3 separate regions of the Homo sapiens genome follow, and all the other regions are linked to region 1. The links come from fine-mapping of genetic effects on gene expression. A gene starts in region 1. Each other region holds a variant in brackets. All regions are shown on one strand. Distances are from middle to middle.

Region 1 (7,135 bases):
AGCTGGGACTACAGGCGCCCACCAGTACGCCCAGCTAATTTTTTGTACTTTTAGTAGAGACGGGGTTTCACCACATTAGCCAGGATGGTCTCGATCTCCTGACCTCGTGATCTGCCCGCCTTGGCCTCCCAAAGTGCTGGGATTACAGGGGTGAGCCACCACGCCCAGCCAAAAATTTGACATTTTTAATTTAAAAAAAAATATTGAGTCATGTAGCCAAAAAAAAAAAGAAAAGAGAAAGGAAAAAATAATAGCAATGGGGCCTCAGTATACTGCCCAGGCTGGTCTTGAACTCCTGGCTTCAAGTGATCCTCCCACCTTGGCCTCCCAAAGTGCTGGGGTTATAGGTGTGAGCCACTGTGCCAGGCCATTTTTTTTTCACTTTTTTTTTTGGAGACAGGGTCTCTGTCACCCAGGCTGGAGTGCAGTGGTGTAATCATGGTTCACTGCAGCCTTGACCTCCCAGGCTGAGATGATTCTCCCACCTCAGCCTCCCAAGTAGCTGGGATTACAGGCATGCTGCAGCACACATGGCTAAGTTTTTGTAGAGATGGGGCTTGCCGTGTTGTCCAGGGTGTTCTGGAACTCCTGGCCTCAAGGGATCTTCCTGCCTCAGCCTCCCAAAGTGCTAGCATTACAGGCGTGAGCCACTGTGCCCAGCTTGTTTTGTTTTTTTCATACATGCTCTCATTCTGTCACCCAGGCTGGAGTGCAGTGGTGCAATCATAGCTCACTGCAACCTCAAACTCCTGGGCTCAAGCAATCCTCCCACTTCAGCCTGACACCATAGGCACACCACCATACCCAGCTAGTTTAAATAATTTTTTTGTAGAGAAAAGGTCTTGCTATGTTGCCCAGGCAGGTCTCAAACTCCTGGCCTCAAGGGATTCTTCAGCCTCCCAAAGTGCTGAGATTACAGACATGAGCCACCATGCCTGGCCAAAAACAAATTAGATTAGAAAACAATAAAAAGTAGTGAGAAGTGATTTGACAATGCTGAGGAAAGAAATGGAAGGGCAAATAAAAAGCATTATGTAGATGAAATTCACATAAGGAACAACAAAAATAATCACTACAAGGTCACAATGAGGCCTGGAGAAATAATAAAAAATGAAATGAATACAAATGTGATTACAGAGAAAACCAGTAACTAAAGAAAGATAATCAAATACATATAATTAGTGTTCCTAAAGAAAAGAGCAAACACAGGCCGGGCGCAGTGGCTCACACCTGTAATTCCAGCACTTTGGGAGGCTGAGGCAGGCAGAGTACCAGAGGTTGGGAGTTCGAGACCAGCCTGACCAACATGGAGAGAAATCCTGTGTCTACTAAAAATACAAAATTAGCTGGGCGTGGTGGCACATGCCTGTAGTCCCAGCTACTCGGAAGGCTGAGGCAGGAGAATCGCTTGAACCTGGGAGGCGGAGGTTGCAGTGAGCCGAGATCGCACCACTGCACTCTAGTCTGTTGACAGAGCGAGACTCTGTCTTAAGAAAAAAAAGGAAGTTGGCCATTAATTCAAATAAAAACAAACAGCATGAGCCAAGAAAATGTGTCTACACTCAAAGCTGGCCTAGGGGCCACTATTTTTTAACTTAAGAAATGCCACTATTTCATGCCCAGTTCTTAGTATCTTTTAACTATGTCAATCCTTTTTAATTCACATTCATGGGCACGCATTAGGTGAAGCTAAACAAAGAATCTATGCCTAGAGGAAGACTCACACATGAAACAAGGTAGTAAGAGCCTATGAATTAGATGCTAAAAGCGCTGCGGTGGCAATCCGGGAAGGCTTCCCAAAAGAAATGACTTTTGAAGTGTGATACCCTACTTTGTTTTAACCTGAGTGACTCTCTCCTAGCAGAGAGAGAGCCGGACAGACTCCATTTTAGTTTCTCCACTGGCAGCCCCCTTTCACCTCCCTCCCTTAAGGCATAGCTAGTGTAAACTGACTCAAAGCACGTCCAGGAATGCACCTACTGATAAGATATTGAGGCAAGCTGCACCAGCAGCTCCTGGGGACGCGCTCGGTGGATGGCAAGCAAAACCCCTGCATTTATCTCTTTGTGATAGTTTAAGCCCGTGCAATTGGAACTGTTTATATTTTGTAACTGCATTTGTAACCAATTAATTTTTCAACTTTTTGCCAGTTCTGCTTCTGTAAAAATTGCTTCAGCTAAAATCCCCCCTCCCCTATTTAGACCACGGTATAAAAACAAAACTAGCCCCTTCCTCAGGGCCGAGAAAATTTTGGGCGCTAGCTGCCTCTCGGTTGCCGGCTAATAAGGACTCTTTAATTTGTCTCAAAGTGTGGCGTTTCTCTGTAACTCGCTTGGTCACAATAGAAGCTGCTCCTAAAAGCAATGTAGACCCTTACAAAGAGACCAGCCCACCTAAATCCCTCCCTTGTTTGAACTCTAACAGTCCTAATATTTTAGACTGAGTAGTAGAACATATATGAACAATACAGTTCATTCCTGTGGCTTAGTCTAGCCTCCCCAGCGGGGTCACTCGTGGGATGCAAAAACCAGATTTGGTTACATATACAAATATACCTGGCACAGATGTGGGCGAGGAATAATCAATTTATGCCTGACGGTGGATTCTGGGCCTCGGGAAGATGCCGTTAGCGGTACCCACAGGAGGGAACTGGAACAGGCAAGAGTAGCGGGACAGGGCCGGGAATGGGGCACGCCGAGACCAAGAAGCCGACCGAGAGCAAGAAGGCCCAGTCATGCGCACCCGGCGCCTACATCCTCCTGCGGTCCCCCAGGCCTCTCCCCATAGGCATATGAGCTCTGCTCCACTCCTCGCTTGCCGGTGGACGCAGGCGCCGCGGCCGCCAGCTCTGTGAACGCAGCGGGGTCTCACCTCCAGGCTACCCCCAACCTCCCGCTCGGTCGGGGGCCCCTCCACGGCCGCTATCACTGGGTCGCGGCTCCTAGCGCCACCATCTTGGACCCCGCGCCTGGGCCAGGCGAGAACTTCCGGTGCGCTCCCCGGGACTGCGGTCCCCCAGTCCGCGCCCCGCCCAGCCGTCCCCCGTCGGCTCCAGCCAATCCGCGCGCGCTCCCCTGGCCGTCTCCCACCGGATCAGGTGTCTCCTCTGCGCAGACTCCTCCACGACGCCAGTCGGCGCTGGCGTAGCTCGGCTCAGCCCGGCGGAGTCTGACTTCCGGAGGGCCAGCGGCGCGCTGGCTGGTTACCAAGGTTACCGCCGAGAGGCCGCGTCCTCAGCTGGTCCTAGACATGCGTGGCGTCGGGGCTGTGGCACGGTCGGGTCCGGGGTGAGTGACCCCTTCAAGTAACTACGTTTTTGTTCTGCCCTTTTGTTTTGTTTTTGAGATGGAGTCTCGCTCTTTCGCCCAGGCCGGAGTGCAATGGCGCGATCTCGGCTCACTGCAGCCTCCATCTCCCAGGTTCAAGCGATTCTCCTGCCTCGGCCTCCCCAGTAGTTGGGATTACAGGCGCCCACCACCACGCCCTGCTAATTTTTGTATTTTTAGTAGAGACGGGGTTTCGCCATGTTGGCCAGGCTAGTCTCGAACTCCTGTTCTGCCTGTTCTGTTTTCATCTTTTGTTATTGTTCCCTGCATGCATTTGTGGTCTCATTCATTGATGACTTCTATTTGCAATGCCCGGTCAAAGGCTAGGCGATACAGATCCCAACAAGGACAGCTTAATGTTTAAAAGTGTAAGTTCCGAAGTGAGAAAGTCAGACACTCAGAATCCTTGCCCCACCACTTAGGGGCTATGTGACTTTGAACAAGTTACCTATTAATAGCTTCTTCGCGCCTCCGTTGCTTCATTTGTAAAGTGAGGTAAATAATAGGACCGACCTCACTGACATATGTATGTGAAGTTTGCATGTGGCGAAGGCCAGATACATATTAGTTATTACTATGGAGATGATGTTGGTTCGCGTAGCGTAGGATCGTGGTAAGGGTTATATATGTATGTAAAGATGTAAGATGTCCAACCCCAAGCCTTTCCGAAGCAAAACTGTCAGTGCACTAGTCACTTTGGCTTCTCATATCTCTCTGTCCCAAACTTTGGGTTGCACGAATTATGCACGTTTCACTCTTGAATTTGTAAATGCAGCTACTACCAACTATTCCTTAATTTGCACAACTACATTTGAGATAGTATTTCATTGACTGTGTTACATTTTCATTGAAATACTGAGCCATGTCTCAAATAGACTTCAATTATAGTTGCTTTTATAGTTCCTTTTGCTTTACCTCTCTTAATAAGAGTGCACTAATAGAAGTTACTCTTTGGAATTTAGAAATGGGTTTTTAAGGCAGGGCACGGTGGCTCACACCTGTAATCCCAGCACTTTGGGAGGCCTAGGAGGCCGCATCACTTGAGCTCAGGAGTTCAAGACCAGCCTGGCCAGCATGGTGAAACCCCCGTCTCTACTAAAAATGCAAAACAATTAACTGGCATGATGGCAGGCGCCTGTAGTTCCAGCTACTCGGGAGGCTGAGGCAGGAAAATAGCTTGAACCCGGGAGGTGGAGGTTGCAGTGAGCCGAGATGGAACCACTTCACTCCAGCCTGGGCAACAGAGCAAGACACTGTCTCAAAAAAATAAAAAAAAAAATAGACTGTTCCGTGTCCTCTGCTCCTAGAGGCCCAGCCTCTGTGGCCCTGTGACCTGCAAGTATTGAGAGATCCACAGCTAAGACACCGGGATCCTCTGGGAGGCAAAAATGAGTTAGAACTCATAAGTGGGAGTTGAACAATGAGAACACATGGATAGAGGGTGGGGAACATCACATACCAGGGCTGGTGGGGGGTGGGGGGCTGGGGGAGGGATAGCATTAGGAGAAATACCTAATGTAAATGACGAGTTGATGGGTGCAGCAAACCAACATGGCACATGTATACCTATGTAACAAACCTGCACGTTGTGCACATGTACCCTATAACTTAAAGTATAACAAATAAATAAAATAAAATAAATGGGTTTAAAAAAAATCGTACAGGCTGGGCGAGGTGGTTCATGCCTGTAATCCTAGCACTTTGGGAGGCTGAGGCGAGTGGATCACTTGAGGTTAGGAGTTCAAGACCAGCCTGGCCAACATGGTGAAACTCCGTCTGTACTAAAAAATAAAAAAAATAAAAAAAAATTAGCCGCGCATGGCAGCATGAGCCTGTAGTCCCAGCTACTAGGGAGGCTGAGGCGGGAGAGTGGCGTGAACCCAGGAGGCAGAGCTTAAGTAAGCCAAGATTTTGCCACTGCACTCCAGCCTGGGCGATAGAGCAAGACTCCGTCTCAAAAAAAAAATAAAATTATCTGGATGTCGTGGTGCGTGCTTGTAGTCTCAGCCACCTGGGAGTCTGAGGCAGGAGAATCGCTTGAATTGGAGAAGCGGAGGTTGCAGTGAGCCAAGATCGCGCCACTGCACTCCACCCTGGGTGACAGAGCGAGACTCTTCTCAAAAAAAAAGAAAAGAAAAAAGAAAAAAGAAGTGGTGTAGATCGTGAAAGTATTAAAAGGGAAAATATTTGTAACATGCATGATAGGAAAAGGGATAACATGCATGACATAAAAGAGCTCCACATGACTTCAGGTTCCCTGAGAGTGCCTTGGGTTTTCCTCAACATTCACTGTATCACCAGTGCCCGGCACAGAGCCAGCACTCCATACATATTTGTAGAATGAATAAATTACATAATGAATCCATGCTGCTGTCAGGGGTAGCATGTGAACTCTAAAGGAGATCAAAAAGAAGAGCTATTCTTTTTAAGACTAAAAAGCCAAAATAACCACTTTTGGCAAGACTTATATATTTCTCAATAAAAAAATGCAGCTGCTGTCTTCCCCACACCCACTGCCTCCCATTTTCATTTTTCTGGCTTATGCAGATCTCAGTTCTTAAAATAAATTTTTTTAAACTTTATTTTGTTATTTTAAAAGTAGTATAAGAATTACAAGAAAACATTCGTACACATGTAAAATGGTTCTGACGACAACTAACCCTGACAGATTTTTTTTTTTTTTTTTTTTAAGAGACAAGGTCTCACTCTGTCAGTGGCATGATCATAGCTCACTGCAGCCTCATCCTCCTGGGCTCAAGTGATCCTCCAGCCTTCTGAGTGGCTGGGACTACAGGTACTGCCACCATGCCTGGCTAATTTTGTTTTTAGTTTTTTGTAGATATGGGGTCTGCCTAGATCGACCAGGCTGTTCTGGAACTCCTGGCTTCAAGCAATCCTGTCACCTTAGACTCCCAGAGTGCTGGGATTACAAGCATGAGCCAAACCTGCCACCACTCCTGGCCTACCAGATTTCTTTTCTTTTCTTTTCTTTTTAACTGAGATGGGAGGCTCCACTCTGTGGCCCACGCTGGAGTATGGCGGTGCAATCACAGGTCAGTGCAGCTTCAAACTCCCAGGCTGAAACAATCCTCCCACCTCAGCATCCCAAGTAGCTGAGACCACAGGTGCACACCACAACACCCAGAAAATGTTTGTACTTTTGGAGAAACTGAGTCTCACTATGTTGCCCAGGCTAGTCTTGAACTCCTGGGCTCAAGCAATCCTCCCATCTCAGCCTCCCAAACCCAAACTGCTGGGATTTCAGGCGTGAGCCACCGTGCCCGGTCTTGGAGCTTATTTTATTTTATTTTATTTTATTTTATTTGAGACAGAGTCTTGCTCTGTCACCAGGCTGGAGTGCAGTGGTGTGATCTCAGCTCACTGCAACCTCTGCCTCCTGGGTTCAAGCGATTCTCCTGCCTCAGCCTCCTGAGTAGCTGGGACTACAGGCGCGCACCACCACACCTGGCTAATTTTTGTATTTTTAGTAGAGACGGGGTTTCACCATGTTGGCCAGGATGGTCTCGATCTCTTGACCTCACGGTCTGCCTGCCTCAACCTCCCAAAGTGCTGGGATTACAGGCATGAGCCACTGAGCCTGGCCCTCTTTACTGTCTTATGCGGTCACTCAACACAATACTTCTGACACCAGATGGGTGGGGGCTTTCTCCACATACTGAGCAATTCTCTAGCAGACACCAGATAGCTGTCCTCTAATTCAATTCAATCTGACACTATCTACCTGGAGATAGTGTTAGATCCCGCAGTCCCACAAGACTACTGCCCACTTCAGATGCCAATTGTAAACT
Region 2 (7,932 bases), 23 kb after region 1:
GGGGCGCGGTGGCTTATGCCTGTAATCCCAGCACTTTGGGAGGCTGAAGTGGGCAGATCACCTGAGGTCGGGAGTTCGAGACCAGCCTGATGAAACTCTGTCTCTACAAAAATACAAAAATTAGCTGGGCGTGATGGCGGGTGCCTATAATCCCAGCAACTCGGGAGGTTGAGACAGGAGAATTGCTTGAACCCAGGTGGCAGAGGTTGCAGTGAGCCAAGATTGCACCATTGCACTCTAGCCTGGGCAACAGAGCGAGACTCTGTCTCAAAAAAAAAGAAAGAAAGAAAGAAAAAGAAACAAAAAACAAACAAAAAGAACAGGTCCATAAGTAATAGAAGGATGATGAAACAGCTCAGCTCCATCTTTGATGGGGATTGGAACTGCCTCTCCCACAATCTCATCTTTTCCTAAGAAAACCTGAAATGCCACTATTTGCAGAACTCTGCAGTTTGACAGACCAGAGTTCATGTTCACGTTCCAGCAGTCATTAGCTGTGTGACTATAGGTAAGTCACTTATCTGTGCCTGAGCATCCTCATCTGTCACAGAGGAATAAAAATGTACCTGGCTTGGGCCGGGCGCGGTGGCTCACGCCTGTAATCCCAGCACTTTGGGAGGCTGAGGTGGGTGGATCACGAGGTCAGGAGATCGAGATCATCCTTGCTAACATGGTGAAACCCCATCTCTACTAAAAATACAAAAAATTAGCCAGGCATGGTGGCAGGCACCTGTAGTCCCAGCTACCCAGGAGGCTGAGGCAGGACAATGGCATGAACTCGGGAGGTGGAGCTTGCAGTGAGCCGAGATTGCGCCACTGCACTCCAGCCTGGGCGACAGACCGAGACTCCATCTCAAAAAACAAACAAACAAAAAAATGTACCTGGCTTGTAGAGTTGTGAGGAGTGAATGAGCTAATACCTGTAAAGTGCTTAGTGTGGGACCTGAAACACAGCGCATGCTCAATAAATGTTAGCTAATATTATTTATCTATCCAATCAAAATATTTTTCTTAAGTATCGACTGAGCCTCACGCCCTGTTCTAGGTAGTGGATAAATATTAATAGTGGTGGACAAAAAAGGTTCCTGTGTTCCTGAAGTTTATACTCCAGTGGAGGAGATCAATAATACATAAATGAACAATAAGTAAATAACACAATTTTGGATAACTGTCAGTTTCATAAAGGAAATTAGCAGAACTACTTTAGGTTGAGTGGACAGAGAGGGCCTCTTTGAGGTGGTAACTTCTGAGCTGACATCTGAAGGATGAGGAAAATCCAGCGAGGCAAAGAGCTTAAGGAAGAACATTCCAGTCAAAGGAACCAGGCAGAGTTTTTCTGATAGGAAGTGAAAGGCCTAGTGACACCCCATGTTTCTTTCTGTTTATGTTCCAAGCTGGGATTTGAACATGAATTTACACCCTTATATCAGGCTATTGGGTGCGTCGGTACTTATGCTGCCCCCTTTTTGCTTTTCCATCCCTTTTTTTTTTTTTTTTGAGACAGGGTCTCACTCTGTCGTCCAGGTGCAGTGATGCTATCGTGGCTCACTGCAGACCTCCCAGGCTCAAGCGATCCCCCCACCTCAGCCTTCCAAGTAGCTGGGACTATAAGTGTGCACCATCACGCTGGCTAATTTTTGTAAAGATAGGATTTTGCCATGTTGCCCAGGCTGTTCTCAGACTCCTGAGCTCAAGTCATCAGCCCGCCCTGGCCTTCCAAAGTGTTGGTATTACAAGCATATGCCACTGTGCCTGGCCTCTGGCTATCTCTTTTAAACAGGATGCTGGCTGTGTGTGGTGGCTCATGCCTGTAATCCCAGCACCTTGGGAGGTCGAGGCGGGTGGATCACTTGAGGTCAGGAGTTCAAGACGAGCCTGGTCAATATGGTGAAACCCCGTCTCTACTAAACATACAAAAAATTAGCTGAGTGTGGTGGTGCACGCCTATAATCCCAGTTACTCAGGAGGCTGAGGCAGGAAAATAGCTTGGACCTAGGAAGTGGAGATTGCAGTGAGCTGAAATCATGCCACTGCACTCCAGCCTGGGTGAGAAACCAAGACTCTGCCTCAAAAATAAAATAATCAGGATGCTGCATCTATAAATCCTAGTGTTACAGACTGAATGTTTGTGTCCCCCCAAAATTCAGGTGTTCAAGCCTTAACCCCCAGTGAGGCTATATGTGGCCATAGGGATGAGGCCTTGATCCAACAGGATCAGTGTCCTTGTAAGAAGAAACACCAGAAATCTGACTCCCTGATGCTCTTCCCCAGCTTGAATGCACCAAGGAAAGGCCATTTGTGGGGACATAGCAAGAAGGCAGCTGTCTGCAAGCCAGGAGGAGAACCCTCACCAGAAACCTCACAGAAATCGGCCAACACCCTCATCTCGGGCTTCCAGCTTCAGAACAACGAGAAAACAAATTTCTGTTGTGTAAGCACCCCAGTCTATGGTATTTTTGTTACAGCAGCCTGAGCTATCTAAGACACCTTCATAGGGGACGGGCGTGGTGTCTCACACCTGTAATCCCAGCACTTCGGGAGGCCGAGGTGGACAGATCATGAGGTCAGGAAATTTAGACCATCCTGGCTAACATGGTGAAACCCCGTCTCTACTAAAAATACAAAAAATTAGCCAGGCGTGGTGGTGGGCACCTGTAGTCCCAGCTACTCAGGAGGCTGAGGTGGGAGAATGGTGTGAACCTGGGAGGCGGAGCTTGCAGTGAGTGGAGATCGCGCCACTGCACTCCAGCCTGGGGGACAGAGCGAGACTCCATCTCAAAAACAAAAAAAAGTGGCTCACGCTTATAATCCCAGCACTTTGGGAGGCCGAGGCCGGTGGATCACGAGGTCAGGAGATCGAGACCATCCTGGCTAACGCGGTGAAACTCCTTCTCTACTAAAAATACAAAAAATTAGCTGGGCGTGGTGGCGGGTGCCTGTAGTCCCAGCTACTCCGGAGGCTGAGGTAGGAGAATGGCATGAACCCGGGAGGCGGAGCTTGCAGTGAGCCGAGATCGTGCCATTGCACTCCAGCCTGGGTGACAGAGCAAGACTCCATCTAAAAAAAAAAAAAAAAAAAAAAAAGACACCTTGATAAACTCGTTATCTTACCCTAAATGAAACTGCTACCAGTAAAATATACTTACAAGAGTCTTCTAGAGAAGGCCAATTCCTCGGTGGCAGAGGCGGTAATTGAACTGGCGACTCATTAAGAACATTCCTAGAGAGAGAGAAAGAGAGAGAATCAGTGTTTGGTTTGGGCCATGCCTGCTCCCAGCCGATTTAAGAGAAAACATCAAGGAAAGTGAATGGGTTGAACATTCAAATCTTGGTCTCTACTAATTGGAAGCATTTCCTTTCCTTTGTAGGTCCTGGTTCCCATTTGTAATTGGCACCCTAATGAAACCGTTTTCTGTAGCCCTGGAAATGGCTGAAAATGAGGGGAGGGAAATAAAGTGCTATAATTCAGAGCATGGAGCACACCTTCCTGGTTCACCTGAGCTGGATTCGGAGAGGTAGGCACCAGATGTATTTCTATTTGCAAAACAGATGAGCCGGGCATGGTGGCGCATGCCTGTAATCCCAGCACTTTGGGAGGCCGAGGCAGGCGGATCACCTGAGGTCAGGAGTTCAAGACCAGCCTGGCCAATATGGTGAAACCCTGTCTCTACTTAAAAATACAAAAATCAGCTGGGCATGATGATGCTCACCTGTAATCCCACCTATTCGGGAGGCTGAGGCAGGGGAATCACTTGAACTTCGGAGGCGGAGGTTGCAGTGAGCCGAGATCATGCTACTGCACTCCAGCCTAGGCAACAGAGTGAGACTCTGTCTCAAAACAAACAAATAAAAAAACAAAAAACAAAAGCAGATGAAC[T/G]CCTAAAGCAGAATGTACACACACCTTGAGTCAGCATTTCCACTACTGGGTCTACAGACTATTGAAATGCTCGCATCTGTTCACCAAAACATGCATTAGAATGTTCAGAGCAACACTATTCATAACAGCTCTGAATTGGACACGACCTGTATTAGTCTGGGTTGTCCAGAGAAGCACAGACACATAAAATTTGCCATCACACAACTCAAATGTCCATCAGCAGTAGAATGGATAGATTAATTATGGTAAAGTGACTGGGCAAGGTGGCTGACATTGGTAATCCCAGCACTTTGGGAGGCGAAAGAGGGAGGATGGCTTGAGCCCAGGGGTTTAAGGGTAATATAGGGAGACCCTGGGCAACACAGGGAGACCCAGTCTCTACAAAAAAATCAACATAATTAGCAGGTTGTGGTGGCATACACCTGTAGTCCCAGCTACTCAGGAGACTGAAGCAAGAGGATCACTTGAGCCCAAAATTTGAGGTGACAGTGAGCTATGATTGCACCACTGTACTCCAACCTGGTTGAGAGTGAGACCTTGTCTCAAAATAAATAAATAAATAAATAAATACTGGTGTACTCCCACGGTGGAATGTTCTATAGCAACAAGAATGAACAATCTACAACTACACACAATGAATCTCATAAAAATGATGTTGAGCAAAAAAGCCAAACACCAAATAATATATACTATATGATGCCATTAATAGATTGCATAAAAACCAAAAAGCTGCTGGGCACGGTGGCTCATGCCTGTAATTCCAGCACTTTGGGAGGCCAAGGCAGGCAGATCATGAGGTCAGGAGATCGAGACTAGCCTGGCCAACATGATGAAACCCAGTCTCTACTAAAAATACAAAAATTAGCCAGGTGTGGTGGCGCATGCCTATAATCCCAGCTACTCAGGAGGCTGAGGCAGAAGAATTGCTTGAATCTGGGAGGCGGAGGTTACAGAGAGCCAAGATCGCGCCACTGCACTCCAGCCTGGGCAACAGAGTGAGACTCCATCTCAAAAACAAAAAAACAAAAAACAAAAAAAACCCAAAAAGCTAATTTATACTATCACAGACAGTGATTGCCTTTGGGATGTAATGGTTGAAAGGCTGTATAAAGTCAGCCTCTGAAGTGCTGGTAACGTCCTATTTCTTGATCTGGGTGCCAGTGACCTGGGTCTGTTGAGTTCGTGGAAATTCATCAGGTTGCACACTCAGTATTTCCATTTTCCTGTATTTATATGATACTTTGGTACAAAGTTTTAACTAAAAGATAAACTCTAAGAAAACTTCCTTACTTGGGCCTCCATCCCCCTAGGTACACTGATTTGACTCCTATATGCTATAAAGTCCCCCTGAGAATGAATAAACATTTTTAGGTTGTTAGGTTGAGTGCAGACGGGGACATGGGGGTAGAGCTCCACCGGCGGCTCTCACCATCCCTCTGTAGCTCTTCCTAAGAGAAGAAAGCAACTCATCTGACTGCTAAATTTGGGAAAAGTCTAGCTCCTCTCACTTTCTCCTCCAGAGCTGGCCTGACTGCAGAATTCACAAATCCTGCTCTGGTCTTTGCCATTCAGAAAAAGGGGTCTACTCGGTGGGGGAGACCTGAGGTTTTCCGGAGCTGCCTGTGAACTGGTTAGGAAAGTCACCCGGTTCCAAATTAGGAAACTCACTAGCTCACAGAAAAGAGCCACATTCTGCAATCCCAGTTTTATTCTTTTTTGTTTGCTTGTGTGTGTGTGTGTGTGTGTGTGTGTGTGTTTGTTTTATTATTATTATACTTTAAGTTTTAGGGTACATGTGCACAACGTGCAGGTTTGTTACATGTGTATACGTGTGCCATGTTGATGTGCTGCACCCATTAACTCGTCATTTAGCATTAGGTATATCTCCTAATGCTATCCCTCCCCCCTCCCCCCACCCCACAACAGTCCCCGGTGTGTGATGTTCCCCTTCCTGTGTCCATGTGTTCTCATTGTTCAATTCCCACCTATGAGTGAGAACATGCGGTGTTTGTTTTTTTGTCCCTGCGATAGTTTGCTGAGAATGATGGTTTCCAGTTTCATCCATGTCCCTACAAAGGACATGAACTCATCATTTTTTATGGCTGCATAGTATTCCATGGTGTATGTGTGCCACATTTTCTTAATCCATTCTATCGTTGTTGGACATTTAGGTTGGTTCCAAGTCTTTGCTATTGTGAATAGTGCTGCTATAAACATACGTGTGCCTGTGTCTTTATAGCAGCATGATTTATAGTCCTTTGGGTATATACCCAGTAATGGGATGGCTGGGTCAAATGGTATTTCTAGTTCTAGATCCCTGAGGAATCGCCACACTGACTTCCACAATGGTTGAACTAGTTTACCGTCCCACCAACATTTTTTTTTTTTGAGACAGGGTCTCACTTTGACACCCAGGCTGGAGTTCAGTGGCACGATCACAGCTCACTGCTGCCCTGACCTCAGGGGTTCAAGCAATCCTCCCACCTCAGCCTCCCAAGTAGCTGGGACTACAGGCAGACACCACCACACCTGGCTAATTTTGGTATTTTTCTCAGATATGGGTCCCCACTATGTTGCCCAGGCTGGTTTCAAACTCCTGGCCTCAAGCCATCCTCCCACTTGGGCCTCCCAAGTGCTGGGATTATAGGCATGAACCACTGCCCCTGGCCAATACCAGTTTTAGTTTTTTGCTTTTTTTTTTTTGAGACTGAGTTTCACTCGTCACCCAGGCTGGAGTGCAGTGGCACGATCTTGGATCACTGCAACCTCCACCTCCTGGGTTCAAGCAATTCTCCTGCCTTAGCCTCCCAAGTAGCTGGGATTACAGGCACACACCACCATGCCCAGCTAATTTCTGTATTTTTAGTAGAGACAGGGTTTCACCATGTTGGCCAGACTGGTCTCGAACTCCTGACCTCAGGTGATCTGCCTGCATCGGCCTCCCAAAGTCTGGGATTACAGGTGTGAGCTGCTGCACCTGGCCCCAGTTTTATTCTTAAAAAAGGCAATATTTAGTCACCTGACTGCCTGACACATTTGTCTTATTCTTGAAAGGGATCAGAATTGATGGAGGCAGGGGGAGTCTTATTTGCTGGATCCCTGAAGCTACAACAAAAGCCATTTTAGAAAAGCAGAGATTTAAAAATGTTTTGTATACAGGGTCTCACTATGTTGTCCAGGCTGGTCTTGAACTCCTGGCCTCAAGTGATACTCCCACTTTGGCAAAGTGCTGAGATTACAGGCATGAGCCACTGCACCTCGCCCCAAGTGTAAGTTTTGTTTTAGATAGTGTGTATACTCCAAAGAAAGGACTGGCTCTTGACTGGCTCCTGGGAAATAATCTCTAAACCCTTGGAATATTCTTCCTAATAAGAGTGTCTCCGGCCGGGCGTGGTGGCTCACGCCTGTAATCCCAGCACTTTGGGAGGCCGAGATGGGCAGATCACGAGGTTAGGAGTTCGAGACCAGCCTGGCCAACATAGCGAAACCCCGTCTCTACTAAAAATACAAAAAATTAGCCAGGTGTGGTGGCGCGCGCCTGTAATCCCAGCTATTCAGGAGACTGAGGCAGGAGAATCACTTGAACCTGGGAGGCAGACGTTGTGGTGAGCCGAGATCGCGCTATTGCACTCCAGCCTGGGTGACAGAGCGAGACTCTGTCTCAACAACAACAAAAAAAGTGTCTTTGAGGCCGGGCATGGTGGCTCACACTTGTAATCCGAGCACTTTGGGAGGCCAAGGTGGGTGGATCACTTGAGGTCAGGAGTTCCAGACCAGCCATGGCCAACATGGTGAAACGCCATCTCTACTAAAAATACAAAAATTAGCTGGGCATAGTGGCAGGTGCCTGTAATCCCAGCTGCTTAGGAAGCTGAGGCAGGAGAAGCACTTGAACCTGGGAGGCAGAGGTTGCAGGGAGCCGAAATCACGCCATTGCTCTCCAGCCTGGGTGACAGACTGGGACTCCATCTCGTAAATAAATAAATAAAGAGTGTCTTTGTATATCTGGGAGCCTTGGGCCACACCAGATAGTTTATGTTAATAATGTGGTTTAT
Region 3 (5,000 bases), 180 kb after region 1:
TTGTTGGCCAGGCTGGTCCTGAACTCCTGACCTCAGGTGATCCACTTGCCTCGGCCTCCCAAAGTGCTAGGTGTGAGCCATGCACCTGGCCCATCAGTAGCTTATGTCTTCATTAATGGTGTCTTTTAATGAACAGAAGTCCTTAATAATGTAGTCAAATTTGGCCGGGCACGGTGGCTCACACCTGTAATCCCAGCACTTTGGGAGGCCGAGGCGGGCAGATTACCTGAGGTCAGGAGTTTGAGACCAGCCTGACCAACATGGAGAAACCCTGTCTCTACTAAAAATACAAAATTAGCCGAGTGTTTCGGCGCATTCCTGTAATCCCAGCCACTTGGGAGGCTGAGGCAGGAGAATCGCTTGAACCCGGGAGGCGGAGGTTGCAGTGAGCCAAGGTCATGCCATTGCACTCCCGCCTGGGCAACAAGAGTGAAACTCCGTCTGAAAGAAAAAAAAAAATCAAATTTATTAATTATTTCTTTATGGTTTGTGATTTTCCTCCTTTTTAAAAAGGAATCTTTTCCTATGGAGTTATGAAGATATCCTATATTATAGAGGTTTTATTCACATTTATATCTAAAATTCCTCTAGAACTTAGATACACACACACACACACACACACACACAGTGTAGATAAGGGTAAAACTTTTTTGTCTCGCTGTGTCGCCCAGGCTAGAGTGCAGTGGCACGATCTTGGCTCACTGCAACGTCTGCCTCCCAGGTTCAAGCGATTCTCCTGCCTCAGCCTCCTGAGTAGCTGGGACTACAGGCACCCGCCACCACGCCCGGCTAATTTTTTATTTTTAGTAGAGACGGGGTTTCACCATCTTGGCCAGGCTGGTCTCGAACTCCTGACTTTGTGATCCATCCGCCTCGGCCTCCCAAAGTGCTAGGATTACAGGCGTGAGTCACCGTGCCCAGCCAAGGGTAAAACTTTTTTTTAAAAAAAGTATGGATAGCCAATTTCTGTATGACTTGGTGAAAAGATCCACCTTTCCCCCATTGCTCTGTGTAGATTAGTTTCAGAACTATCTTCTGTTCAGTTGGTCTGTTTGCCTTTTTTTTGTGCTAAATTCTGCACTGTGATTTATGTGAAATAAAATTTTCTCTCTTTTTTTTTTAAACCCGAGATGGAGTTTTGCTCTTGTTGCCCAGGCTAGAGTACAGGGTGCGTTCTGGGCTCACTGCAACCTCTGCCTCCCGGTTTTCAAGCAATTCTCCTGCCTCAGCCTCCCGAGTAGCTGGAATACAGGTGCCCGCCACCACACCCAGCTAATTTTTTTTTACTTTTAGTAGAGATGGGGTTTTACCATGCAGGCCAGGCTGGTCTCGAACTCCTGACCTCAGGTGATCTGCCCGCCTCAGCCTCCCAAAGTGCTGGGATTACAGGCATAAGCCACTGCACCCAGCCTGATTTTTTTTTTAAACATCTTTAAACATAGCTACAACTAGGTCACGTGAGTTACTGTCTGCCTAGAAACCCATAGAATGCTCTTTGTTAATGTATGGCTGCATGTGACTCGGGTTTTGGCACTGCCTTGTGTTATCTGAAAGGCCAAGGCTTTGCACATAGCAGATGTGCATGCAGCTGTTGGATGATGGTCAGTGGTTCCCATGAACAAATAAAATGTCAATTCCAGACACTAAATAGTTAGAAGATGGAAGAGTTAGTTTCAGAATAACCGATTTCCTAACTATGTTTCTATACATGTGTTTTTTTAAAGATCTCTGCACTCGTCCTAAGAGCCCAGGCCTCCGAGATCTTACTTGAAGAGTTACAGCAGGGGCTTTCCCAGGCAAAGAGGGATGTTCAGGAACAGATGGTAAGTTTACATTTTAAGTAAATGACAACTATGTTACTATATATTCCTTTTTTGTTCTATCTTGACATCATCTTTGATAGGAATTTATCATCCTGTCCAAAGTAGTTACTGTTGTCTTCTCCCGGGACTGTAGAACATTAATAATGGACAAAATATTGTAAAGACATTATTCCTTTTTTAAACCTACTTTCTGGCCAAACAAAAATTTTTTCTCATCGTTTAACTTATTTTTCTGATTTGGGAAACCTAAACAGAATAAACTATGGACCTAATTTAATTTTTAATTCCAAATAAAAGCTAAAAAATTGAATGTCTGAGAGCCCTAGCTGGTACAGCTTTTGACCAGTCATTTTGTGATTTTCCTGGATGGCTAATTTATTTAGAATAACCTTATTAGGGCTGGGCTGAGGCGGGTGGATCACGAGGTCAGGAGATTGAGACCATCCTGTCTAACATGGTGAAACCCCATCTGTACTAAAAATACAAAAAACTAGCCGGGCGTGGTGGTGTGCACCTGCAAATCCCAGCTACTCGGGAGGCTGAGGCAGGAGAAGCGCTTGAACCTGGGAGGCTGAAGTTGCAGTGAGCTGAGATCGCGCCACTGCACTCCAGCCTGGGTGACACAGCAAGACTCTCTTTCAAAAGAAAAAAAAAATAACCTTATTAGTTTCACAGGGGTTATGAAAAAAAACATGTAACTGTTGTGGTGCTGGGGACCTTCCAGAAGGCCATCTATGCTGAGAGGGATGGGGGCAGAGTGTTATGAGCAAGTGCCGGCTAGAGCCTTTGCAGATAGTCCCCAGGCTTGGGCTCCCTCCTCACTAGTCTGGCTGCATTTGCTTTGTTTTTCCTTTCTCAAAGTTGGAGCCTACATCTGATGCCTCCAACTAAATTAAAGTAGAGGTGGCTCTGCTGGGGTGATTCTACAAGGCTGATGCTTACCC[G/A]GGGATGACAGTTTAAAAATAAAAGCCTTGGGTGGAATGGTCATTGAATGTTTTTAATTGGCATTATTAGGTCAGTATCTGAATGGCCTATGAGCTGATCCCTAAATCTTAAACCTGGTCTGTTGGGAAGCATCTCATCCTAATCATTGACCCATAGTTTCATGTGTTTTCTCTAATTAGAAAATACAATATAACACTGGCGTAAAAATCACTGCTAAATACTGACAGTTTCATAGCGGTGAGCCTCCTACACTCCTTCGACCCCTTGCATCTTTTTCCTTCTTGTCTTTTTTTTTTTCTTTTTTGAGACAGAGTTCTGCTTTTGTTGCCTAGGCTGGAGTGTAATGGCGCAATCTCGGCTCACTGCAACCTCCTCCTCCTGGGTTCAAGTGATTCTCCTGCCTCAGCCTCCTGAGTAGCTGGGATTACAGGCATGCACCACCACACCCGGCTAATTTTGTATTTTTAGTAGAGACGGGGTTTCTCCATGTTGGTCGGGCTGGTCTCGAACTCCTACCTCAGGTGATCCACCCGCGTTGGCCTCCCAAAGTGCTGGGATTACAGGCATGAGCCACTGTGCCCGGCCTCCTTCTTGTCTCTTAAAACCATCAGCCCTTGCAGACACTTTTCAAGCTGGTTTCACTTAAAATGAATGTGTGTCAGTGACACTGGAGAACTGTTGAAATTAAGGTTGAGGTCCTATGAACTCCAGTACATGACCATTTTGTTGAAATTACCATAAAGAAGAGAAACTCACCACGTTAGTGCATGCTTGCCCTTGTTCTTAGTCTTTCTGTGTATGTTTGTAGGTATATGATGTGTGTGTGTACGTATGTCTTGGTTTGTGTTTTTTGCTGGACTGTTTGGAGTTATTGTAGACATGACAGTCGTAAGTATTTTAGTATGTATTTCCTAAAACAAAGAGTTGTTCTGCATCGCTACAGTACTGTTATTACATCCTTAAAATTTAACCAGTTGTCCCAGTAAGTCCTTGATTACTTTTTAGTGGTGGTTTTCCTTTTTATATTTTCTATATTTTGATCCAGGAACCAATCAGTGATCACATATTTCATCTTGTTGCCATGTCGCTTTAGTCACTTTTCATCTAGAACAGTCTCCCACTCTCTTTTTATTTTTAAGAATCCGGCCAATTGCTTTGTTTCAGGCCATCTGTCTTGTAGAATTCATTTGTCTGATTATCTCCTTGTGATTTGATTCAGGTTAGACATCTTGGCAAGAATACTGCACAGATGAAATGGTTCAATGGGAGGTTCATAACATAATGAGGCACGTTAATGATGGGTGCTTCCATTACTGGGGATGTTAAATTTGATCACTCGGTTAAGGTGGGGACAAAATAGTTTCAGAATGACTATATCAATATTACTACCAACAGCAAATCTACTAAGTAAAGGCCAACATTTCTTTGTAGTTCTGCCCTTAGACTGTATCTCAGATAAGGGTTTACAGTTTAAGTACTGTGTTCAAATGTTAGTTTTTCTCTCTGTGGTTGTATTAGGAATTTGATATATAGTTAGCTCCATTTGTTTCTCTTTTTTTTTTTTTGTTTTTGAGACGGAGTCTTGCTCTGTCGCCCAGGTTGGAGTGCAGTGGCGCGATCTCGGCTCACTGCAAGCTCCGCCTCCCGGGCTCACGCCATTCTCCTGCCTCAGCCTCTGGAGTAGCTGGGACTACATGCGCCCGCCACCACGCCTGGAGAATTTTTTGTTTTTTCAGTGGAGACGGGGTTTCACCGTGTTAGCCAGGATGGTCTCGATCTCCTGACCTCGTGATCCACCCGCCTCGGCCTCCCAAAGTGCTGGGATTACAGGCGTGAGCCACTGCGCCTGGGCTGTTTCTCTTTATATTACATTTTCAGATTTGATTTTTCTTTCTTGATTTATATTTTGAATATGTAACATGGTTCATAATCAAAAGTATAAAAATAAATACTCAGCTCCATTTCCATTCCCTGTCCTTTTCACCCCATTTCCACTCACTCTTATACGTAATTATTTTAATTTATTTTTGGCTTATCCTTCTGTTTTTCTCTTTACAAAAACAAGCAAATATATACATATTCTTTTTTCCCTTCTTTCATATCCAGAAGGTGGTGGGATACTAAGATTTTGTTGTAAATGGGTGACAGTGATCATAAAGCACAGTGGATTCTAGTCTGAAGACAATAAGAGCCAGTGGGCTTTAGCCAGAGCATATGCATGGCCGTGACTGC

Which allele goes with the higher level. Alleles are on the strand shown, and positions count from the first base shown. SD is a standard deviation of normalised expression in the study named. Not every link is listed here.
For the expression in minor salivary gland of the gene that starts at base 3,131 in region 1, allele A in region 3 goes with a higher level than allele G (moderate effect, 0.64 SD a copy in GTEx).

The links. PIP is the estimated chance that this variant, and not a neighbour inherited with it, causes the effect.
Region 2: its variant is fine-mapped to the expression of ZNF594-DT in fibroblasts (GTEx, PIP 0.98).
Region 3: its variant is fine-mapped to the expression of ZNF594-DT in minor salivary gland (GTEx, PIP above 0.99).

What each region holds. Positions count from the first base shown.
Region 1 is chr17:5,188,877-5,196,011 of GRCh38, forward strand. ZNF594-DT (ZNF594 divergent transcript) reads left to right here and starts at 3,131. Exons shown (of 6, transcript NR_152840.1): 1 at 3,131-3,287. ZNF594 (zinc finger protein 594) reads right to left here and starts at 2,992. Exons shown (of 2, transcript NM_032530.2): 1 at 2,872-2,992. RefSeq lists a silencer at 2,927-3,126.
Region 2 is chr17:5,211,779-5,219,710 of GRCh38, forward strand. SCIMP (SLP adaptor and CSK interacting membrane protein) reads right to left here. Exons shown (of 5, transcript NM_207103.3): 4 at 3,147-3,220. It overlaps ZNF594-DT (ZNF594 divergent transcript), which reads left to right. Exons shown (of 6, transcript NR_152840.1): 3 at 2,272-2,431; 4 at 3,369-3,515. Among named protein-coding and RNA genes, the nearest start is that of SCIMP, 19 kb to the right of the region's middle. The variant T/G (reference allele first, on the strand shown) is at 3,878.
Region 3 is chr17:5,366,646-5,371,645 of GRCh38, forward strand. RABEP1 (rabaptin, RAB GTPase binding effector protein 1) reads left to right here. Exons shown (of 18, transcript NM_004703.6): 12 at 1,725-1,823. Among named protein-coding and RNA genes, the nearest start is that of NUP88, 51 kb to the right of the region's middle. The variant G/A (reference allele first, on the strand shown) is at 2,768.